Regions from separate parts of the Homo sapiens genome. Here region 2 is linked to region 1. The links come from fine-mapping of genetic effects on gene expression. A gene starts in region 1. The other region holds a variant in brackets. All regions are shown on one strand. Distances are from middle to middle.

Evidence for each region. PIP is the estimated chance that this variant, and not a neighbour inherited with it, causes the effect.
Region 2: its variant is the best candidate, but not a certain one, in a credible set for the expression of RAB3GAP2 in sigmoid colon (GTEx, PIP 0.76).

The regions. Positions count from the first base shown.
Region 1 is chr1:220,269,793-220,274,190 of GRCh38, reverse strand. RAB3GAP2 (RAB3 GTPase activating non-catalytic protein subunit 2) reads left to right here and starts at 1,738. Exons shown (of 35, transcript NM_012414.4): 1 at 1,738-1,968. The coding sequence starts at 1,854. RefSeq lists an enhancer at 3,143-3,644.
Region 2 is chr1:220,139,594-220,143,991 of GRCh38, reverse strand. It overlaps IARS2 (isoleucyl-tRNA synthetase 2, mitochondrial), which reads right to left. Exons shown (of 23, transcript NM_018060.4): 19 at 3,703-3,809; 20 at 2,044-2,189; 21 at 858-1,048. It also overlaps the pseudogene RPS15AP12. Among named protein-coding and RNA genes, the nearest start is that of MIR194-1, 24 kb to the right of the region's middle. The variant C/T (reference allele first, on the strand shown) is at 2,389.

The sequences.
Region 1 (4,398 bases):
TTTGTTATTCGTCCAGTAACACTAAGAATCTAAATTTAAATTTTGGTTTAGTTTGGGATTGGTGCTGGATTTTAGGGAATAATCTTATCAGGGCTGGATTATTCTAGTTAGTGATGATCTGAGGAAACACTGCATTTCTTCAGATGGAAGAAGGGAGCACTGGCAGCTTGCTTTTTCTGAAAGCTTTGATTACAGAAGTATAGGTCCCTGATGCTTAAAGGGACCTTACAGCACATCTGATTCAACTGCCTTTTATAGGTGAAGAACTGATTCCTGTTAACCTGATAACATAGAAATTGCCTATCCTATTTTGTGAAAATCATCCTACTCTAGAAGTAGGAAATAATGGAGTAGGAACCTGGGCACTAAATTATAGTTGTTATATTATTAGGACTAAGTGTGTATGTCCACGGGCCTGACAGAAATGAATGCTCTGGACCCCATCCACTTGCCTTTCATTTGTTCCTGTGCCCTTTTTTCATACAAAGTGGATGGCCTCTTTAGGTTTCCTTTAGGAAATGTGTAAGTGCCTACAGGCCTTTGTGCTCACATTAAAATAATTTTTTTTGTTTTTATTTTTTGGAAAAATAACTTAAAGTCTGCTCAGAGACAGCTCAATTTCTTTATTTTAAAAATGGGATAAGACACACTATTTTTAGATGGCATTTGTGACTATCCAAATGAACAATGTAAAGTACTTTCAAAAATAGTGCTTTGTCAAAGAAACAAGTTATTCTATTTACTTTATGTATGCATTCCATTTATTTCTTCAGCAAATATTTATGAAGCACTTACTAGCATGATCACAATTTCAGTTAAATAGTTAAGTACAGTAGTCCCCCCTTTATCCATGGGTTCATTTTCCACATAATTATTCAATTTAATTATTAGTTATTGTTAATCTTTCACTGTGCCTAATTTATAAATTTAACTTTATCATATATATGTATAGGTAAAAACATAATACACATACATAGGTTTCAGTACTATCCATGGTTTGAGTCATCCACTGGGGATCTTAAAACATATCCCCTTGGATTAAAGGGAAATACTGTAATTAATTGCTTACTGCCTGTATCAGTCACTAGAATTCCAGCTTTCTGGGAAAAGGTACTTCTTCTCTTTTGTTCTCTAATGCTCAGCACCCTGCGTGGCTGGCATTTAAAAGACTAACAAATATTTGTTGAATGGATGGATGAATGCATGAATGAAAAACCAAATGAATAATGAAAACAAAAGTGTATAATACACTATAACACGTACTATATTGGGCTTGCGTAGTACTATGGGAATCTATAGTAGGAGCATTTAAAGCCAGCCTTGACGGGGCTAATCTCCGGAAGAGCAATTAATCTTTTCAAAATCCGACTCTTGCAGGATACGGTCCCCCACTGGCCTGCCACTAGTTTAAAACGAATTAGTTTCTGTGAAACATCAGGATCGTGCCAATAGTAGGGGACCAATAAGACTGAATAAGTCAAAGGGCTGCGCGGACAAGTCCAATTAGAACACCTCTGGCTAAAAGCCAGAATGAATGAAAGGGTTCATGCCTCGGCGTAGACACACAACTGGGACTGAAAAATCTGCCCCAAGCCTCCACGTCGACTTTGGCTCCACCTGCAGCGGCGGCGCCGTAGTCACGTGACCCGGGCCCCCGCGCCCTAGGCGCCTGGGCCAGCCTGCGCCTGCGCAGTACTCGGAGACAGCGGACCCGTGTCAGTGACAGCTTCCGGTTTGGTTTCTCCGCCTTCTGCTTGGCTAGAGCTATTGGGGCTCGGTGGCGGCCGCAGTGGGGTGGAGGGGGCAGGGCGTGGTGAGGTAAGGTGAGTGCCGTAGTGGGGTTCCCTGGAGCCATGGCCTGCTCCATTGTCCAGTTCTGCTACTTCCAGGACCTCCAGGCCGCCCGGGACTTCCTCTTTCCTCACCTGCGGGAGGAGATCCTCAGCGGCGCCTTGCGGAGGGACCCCAGTAAGTGCCTCTCTGGCCTCGCCCTTCCTTCCCTCGTCACCCGCGGCCTCTGCTCACGGGTTCGAGTCTCCTACTCGCTCTGCGCCTCCTGCCTCTGCCCTCTGGACCCCCAGTTCTCCCCGTGCCTCCCCTCCGCTCCGGGATGACACCCTGCCCACCTCGTCCTGAAGCCCCATTTGTGTTGTCTTCCTCTCGACCCAGCTTTTCTCCTTAGGCCCTCTGACCCCTGGCTAAAAACTGCGTCTTGTTTCCTCTCGCCTCTGCCTATCACCGCTTTCTCCCTCCCTCCCCCCACCCCCACACATTCCTAGCTTTCTCTCTGAGTATCTTCTCCGTCTCCCATCTTCAGCCTGGGGTCGTTCCCTGTTTCATGTTGCCTGCTCCGTGATCGCATCCTCCCCGTTCCTTGCCACATGTCAGCGCTCCACTCTGGTATTGCCCCAGCTCCCACTCTCTTCCATCCCGGAGACTGTGGCCTTCTGCTACCTCCCATTCCGAAAGTGTTGATCATCCCCCCACACTCTCCCTTCTTTCATCTGCATTTCCCCCATTCAGATTTTGAGAACAAATGGCTGACAAATGAGTGACTCTTGAGGTAAGACTCTCTCAAAGAAGGAAAATAACCTGTCAGGAAGTGAACGAGAATCTACATTAGGAACTAAAATTACAGTGACATAGCCAAGAAAGGTTAATTTGCTTTATTGAAGCCTTCCACCTATTTTTATCATCAAAGTGTTTAATAAGCCTTTCCCCAAGTAGTATAAAGTTCCAAGGCTGGTTTATTAGATACTATATAGGCTTTCAGAATTTCGTACATTTCATTTTGAAAGGGTGTGCCTTGTGTTTTATTTTATTTTATTTTATTTTATTTTATTTTTGCATTTCCAACCTGAAGCACATTTGGCTTTGTAGTACAGCGCTCTCACTTTGTGCTATACCGGAATGGTGATATAAAGCCCACTAAGCTCCTCTCCCTTTTTTAGAAAATTTAGAAGATATCAAATCGAACCCATCTGTGAATGATTGCATACTTTGTGCCAGTCATTGGTGCTACAAACCAAATAAGGTTGGTGGACCCTGCTGTAGGAACTTCTGGTTTACAGACAAATCATTAACTTCCATTCAGTGTGACTGAGATATACATGAGGCATTTTCTTGAAGTGGTGATACTTAAGCCTACCTTTGAAGTACTAGTTAGAGGAGTAAAGGAGCAGTAATAGCATGTGCAGAGGAAGGGAGGCCTGAAATGGCATGGTATTTAGAGAACTAAGAAAAGCTGAATGGCTGGAGAGGAGGATGGGAGAGGAAGAGTTGGGGCAATGAGGCAGTAGTAGTAATAAGGAGCTAGACCATGAGAGGCCTTGTGAAAATTGTGGCGTTTCTCTGAAAGTTTAAGTAGAGAAATGACATTGTCAGATTTGTACTTAATGTAATCAACAACATTTGTTGAAGACCTGTAATGTGCTCTGGTAGCAAAGTGGAGGAGAGATTGGAAGAAGGGAAATGGATTGGGAAGCTCTTCCAGTAATCCAAGCAAGAAATTATGTGAGCTTGAATTAAGAACCTTAGTAGGATGAAGATGAAGGACTAGATTAGAAAGACGTTAAGGAGTTAGAATCTGCAGGACCTTGTGAAGGTCTGGTGATGGGCATTGTAACTAGTAAGTGAGGGGGAGTTTAGGAAGTCTTTGGCTTGTGGTTTGGGCAACTATATGTAATAAGAGAATGAAGGATACAGATTTTCAACCTTTTGCATTTTAAATGTTTATGGTATGTCCAAGTAAGGACATCTGGTTGAACACCAGATATAGATAGTCTAAACAGTAGGGAGTACTGGGCCAGAGATGTTAATTGGGGAGCTAACAGCAAAAAGTGTCAGTTCAGTCTCAAGGATTATGTATGTTGTGAAATGCACTGAGTACTAAAGCTGTAAGCTTAGAGGAGCACTGGTGTTTAAAAGTCAAGTAGAGGTTACTGGGAAGAAGACTGAGAAGGAGTAAAAGAAAGAGGAAAATCATGTGAGAGTAAGGCCCTCGGAGCTGAGGAAGGCGAGAACTTGATGAGGGTGAGGAATGGTCAGCAGTTTTGCAAATGCAGCAGGGGTCAGGTAAGAAAAGGATAGAAAAATGCTTATTGGTTTTGAGAAGGTGGAGGTAACTTGGACCTTAGGACAGTTTCAGTAGGATAGTGGAGGCAGAAAGCATAGTTATAGGATAAGGGGTTAAAAAGTGAAATATACTATTTCAAGGAGCTTGGCTGTGAAGGATAGCAGATGCAGGATTGTAGATAGGGAATGTAGAAAAAAGGAACAGATTTTCTTTATCCTTCTACCACTCTCCTGGTCCAGGCCACCATCTTTTCTCAACCTGGGCTATGATATGATATGTGTCTTCTTCTAGCAATTCTTCCTGCTTTTGCTCTTGGTTTCCTG
Region 2 (4,398 bases), 130 kb after region 1:
CACAGGAGGGAAAATCCTGGGATTCTTTTTCTAGGGATGTAATACATATATTTACAAATAAAATGCCCCGTGGAAAAAAAATTATATTCATTGCCAATTCTCTTCTTAAGCATTTAGACTGGAGAAAAATCACATCATTATGTTAAGCTATAAGCCAATCTGGCCAATCAACCCCTAAAAATCCCAAGAATAAAATTCTGATGGCCCTTCTAGAAATAAAAATAGGATAAATGCTTTGAAATATATGTGGTAACTTGCTGGAGAAAATGAATTTTCTCCAGATTTCACAAAATAAAAATGGAAACTCTTTTTGGGTTTGTTTTGAATCTGGTCCAGATGGATGAAATTCTCAGGAAACCTGACCCTTAATACAAAACTCCCATTTTTTATACATTCAAAGACGATCGCGATCAATTTATATGTCCCCTGTCTTCTAAATAGTCCTGAGGCCTTTTGTTTGAAACAGAACTTTATCTATTCCTTCCCTATCCCTACACAGTAATATGTATGTGTTACATGCACAGAACACGTTTTACAAGACATGGAAAAGAATATGGTGAAATAGGAAACAAAAGAATCAGTGATGATATCAGGATTAGAAGACGGAAACCCTAATTTCTAAATTAATTTTTTTTTAATTTAGACACTTTTTTTTAAATGTGCATGACTTTGCTTAATTTATTAAAAGATATTTAAAAGTGAAAAAGTATGTGAAAAGGAACATAATAGAATAATTGCATAGTAAAGTTACACATAACCCAATGTTATTTGATTAATTTAGACACATTTTAAAAGCAAATTTCAGGCAAAGCTCTATGATACTAACACCATTTCAAAAGGTACATATTGCTGCATACCTCTATTATCTCAAAAAGCAGTCCAGGTTCTATCACAGTGATAACCTTGTACTCAGCTGCATTTTTGCCAGGGATGCTTCCAAGAAATGAGTCTCGCATTGCACACGCACTCTCCACAGCTTCTTCCAACCCGGGCTTTTTCCAGATAGAACTAGTACTAATCCACCCAGTACGGAAAACACTCTTGGGCTCTTCAGAAGAACAAAAATAGTAAACTGCTTTACAAACATCCTAAACTGTATATGAAGCTCTAACCATTAAATAGTTACCATTAATGGGAAATAAGAATTGTTATTTATGGTAATCAAGTGATGAAATATTATGGATCCATCCTAATTATTTACAAAACATTTATATCAGCATTGGAAAATCTTTGTTATATTTAAACAAAAGAGAAAATATATAATAAGATCTCAAAGAAAAAAAGGATGCTTAGAAAAAAATAAATAGAAATATCCCAATATTAACAGCTATCAGGAGTAACATTATAAGTGACTTCCCCCTCTTCCTACACTTCTATAGTTTCTAATTTTTATAAACTTAATACAATCAGAAGAAAACAACTAACATAAAACTCACTAAAAGCACTATATTTTGTTTTAATACAACCTAAAATATATTTCAGAACATTTTTTTTGACAGTCTTGCTCTGTCACCCAGGCTGAAGTACAGTGGCATGATCTTGGCTCACTGCAACTTCCACCTCCCGAGTTCAAGCAATTCTCCTGCCTTAGCCTCCCAAGTAGCTGGGACTACAGGCACCCGCCACCACCATGCCCCACTAATTTTTATATTTTTAGTAGAGATGGGGTTTCGCCATGTTGGCCTGGCTAATTTTGAACTCCTGACCTCAAGTGATCTGCCCACCTCGGCCTCCCAAAGTGCTGGGATTACAGGTGTGAGCCACCATGCCAGCCATTTCAGAACAGTTATAAAGGTATTTAAGAAAAAAGGTGATTTCTCGACACTGTCAAGCTGCTAATACATTTCAGAAAGCACAGAATTCTGAAATTTACCCTACTCCTCTACAAATAGGTGCAGAAACAAATACATGACCAAGACACACTGTGTCACACAGCAGTCACTGTAAATGGATAAGTGCCCCTTTTATGAAGCAGATAGAAGTAGAAGTTGCACCTTGATCAGGGATATTTCTCATTAAGAGAATAAATGAAGTATTCCTTACCTTTAATATAAGGTATGTGCTGGAACACCTCTTCAGCCAGGTGAGGAAGAATGGGAGCAAAAGAACGAACTATTACATCCAAAATTTCAACTAATGCAGTCTGACAAGAGCGTCGTTTGGGGTCATTTTCCTTTTCACAATAGAGCCTGAACAAGAACAACTTATTCAGCAGTTGACAATACTTTATACATTATGGTCACCTAGATGGGACCTGCCTCAGGTTGAGTTTATTCCTAGTGGCTAATCCTATGGCTCTAATCATCTTCTACTTAAAGAATACAATACACTCTCCTACAATTTTACTCCGTCCAGGTGTACCCACCTCCTTGAAAGCACTCATGGCTA[C/T]GCTATCTCATTCTGTTTCTCAGGTGGATGACAACTAGAGTCTAGACTACTGTATTAAAGGACTATGAATAAGTTAGTTGATGGTATTTAACATGTGGCTCCCACCCACTCCAATGTTATTAGTGTTTTAAGGGAAGGAGTAGGAGTTATAATCCCTATGTGCAAGGTCCTTGGGGTGCTGACAGGCTGAGGATAACGCCTCAGACTGGACTCATTACCATGAAGGTAGGACCGTCACCTGCACACTGGAGCAACAGATGAAGACTTGGCATCAAGGCCTCTTCTACAAGGATACTGCTAATATTATACACTGTTACCATATAATTGCACATATATATCTCTCTCTTCCCCTCAGGATTTGAGAACTCCTGAGAACAAGCATTATGTTCATCGTCTGATATTAGTAGTGATGATTTTTTGAACACTTTATCAAGCACAGCTTTAAGCACATTATTGCTTTTCCTTCTCAATCACGAGGTAAGTATTATTATACCCATTTTACAGATGAAGAAACAGATTACAGAATAAGTTGCCCCAAATCAGAAAGCTAGTAAGCGGGAGGTCAAACCTTTATACTCAGACTTGACTCCGGAACCCAATCTTTTTTTTTTTTTTTTTTTGAGACGGAGTCTTGCTCTGTCGCCCAGGCTGAAGTGCAGTGTCACGATCTCGGCTCACTGCAAGCTCTGCCTCCCGGGTTCACGCCATTCTCCTGCCTCAGCCTCCCAAGTAGCTGGAACTACAGGCACCCGCCACCACGCCCAGCTAATTTTTTGTATTTTTAGTAGAGACGGGGTTTCACTGTGTTAGCCAGGATGGTCTCGATCTCCTGACCTCGTGATCCGCCCGCCTCGGCCTCCCAAAGTGCTGGGATTACAGGCGTGAGGCACCACGCCTGGCCCGGAACCCAATCTTAATAACTGCACAACACTGCCCATCTTGCTCATCACTGTATCCCTGACGGTTGCCAAACACAAGTAGACACTCAAAAAATACTTGTTGAGGTTTTGTTGTTGTTATTTTTTGAGACGAGATCTTGCTCTGTCACCCAGGCTGGAGTGCAGCAGCACAATCTCTGCTCATTGCAACCTCCGCCTCCCAAGTTCAAGCGATTCTCGTGCCTCAGTCTCCTGAGTGACTCGGATTACAGGCATGTGCCACCATGCCCGGCTAATTTTTGTATTTTGCCATACTGGTCTCGAACTCCTGGCCTCATGTCATCCACCCGCCTCGGCCTCCCAAAGTGCTGGGATTACAGGCGTGAGTCACCACACCTGGCCATTGTTAAGCATTTTAATATTTAGTCATACATACCTATCTTTGATTATACTGAAATAAAAGTTAGAGAGCTCTCTGGTATAAAACGTCCGTAACAGCCGAACAACTTTTCCAAAATCATATTGTTTGTATAATTCGGTAATCTAGGGAACAAAGCCAAAATAAATTTGGAAGCTGAGACAGGCAAATGAAAATGTAAGTCATCACAAGCAAAATATGCTCCTTTCAAAAATATGTTTCAATGAGACAAATACAAAACAGGCAATATGCAAGAACTCCTGGGAATCTTCCAAATGTCATTTCTGGATAACACATTTGACTACACTCAGAAAATACTATTTTACTCTGAGAACTACGAAAGGACATTAATTAAGGAAAGAATGAGATTGTAAATAACAAAATCACACCATTTTAACAACAGCAAACAGTGGACGTCACCAACAATTCATTAGTGTTCCTTCATTTATGCCTCATTTATTTTTGATTTGGGCAAAATTGGTATGTACACCTCTGACTTAAGGGTACACTAATGCAAACACATTTCCAATTATGAGAAAACACAATTTTTTTTTTTTAAGACAGGGTCTCACTCTGTCAACCAGGCTGGAGTGCAGTGGCACAATCACAGCTCACTGCAGCCTCAAAACCATGGGCTCAAGCGATTCTCCTGCCTCAGCCTCCCAAGGAGCTGGGACTACATGCACTGGCTAACACGCCTGGCTAATTTTTAAA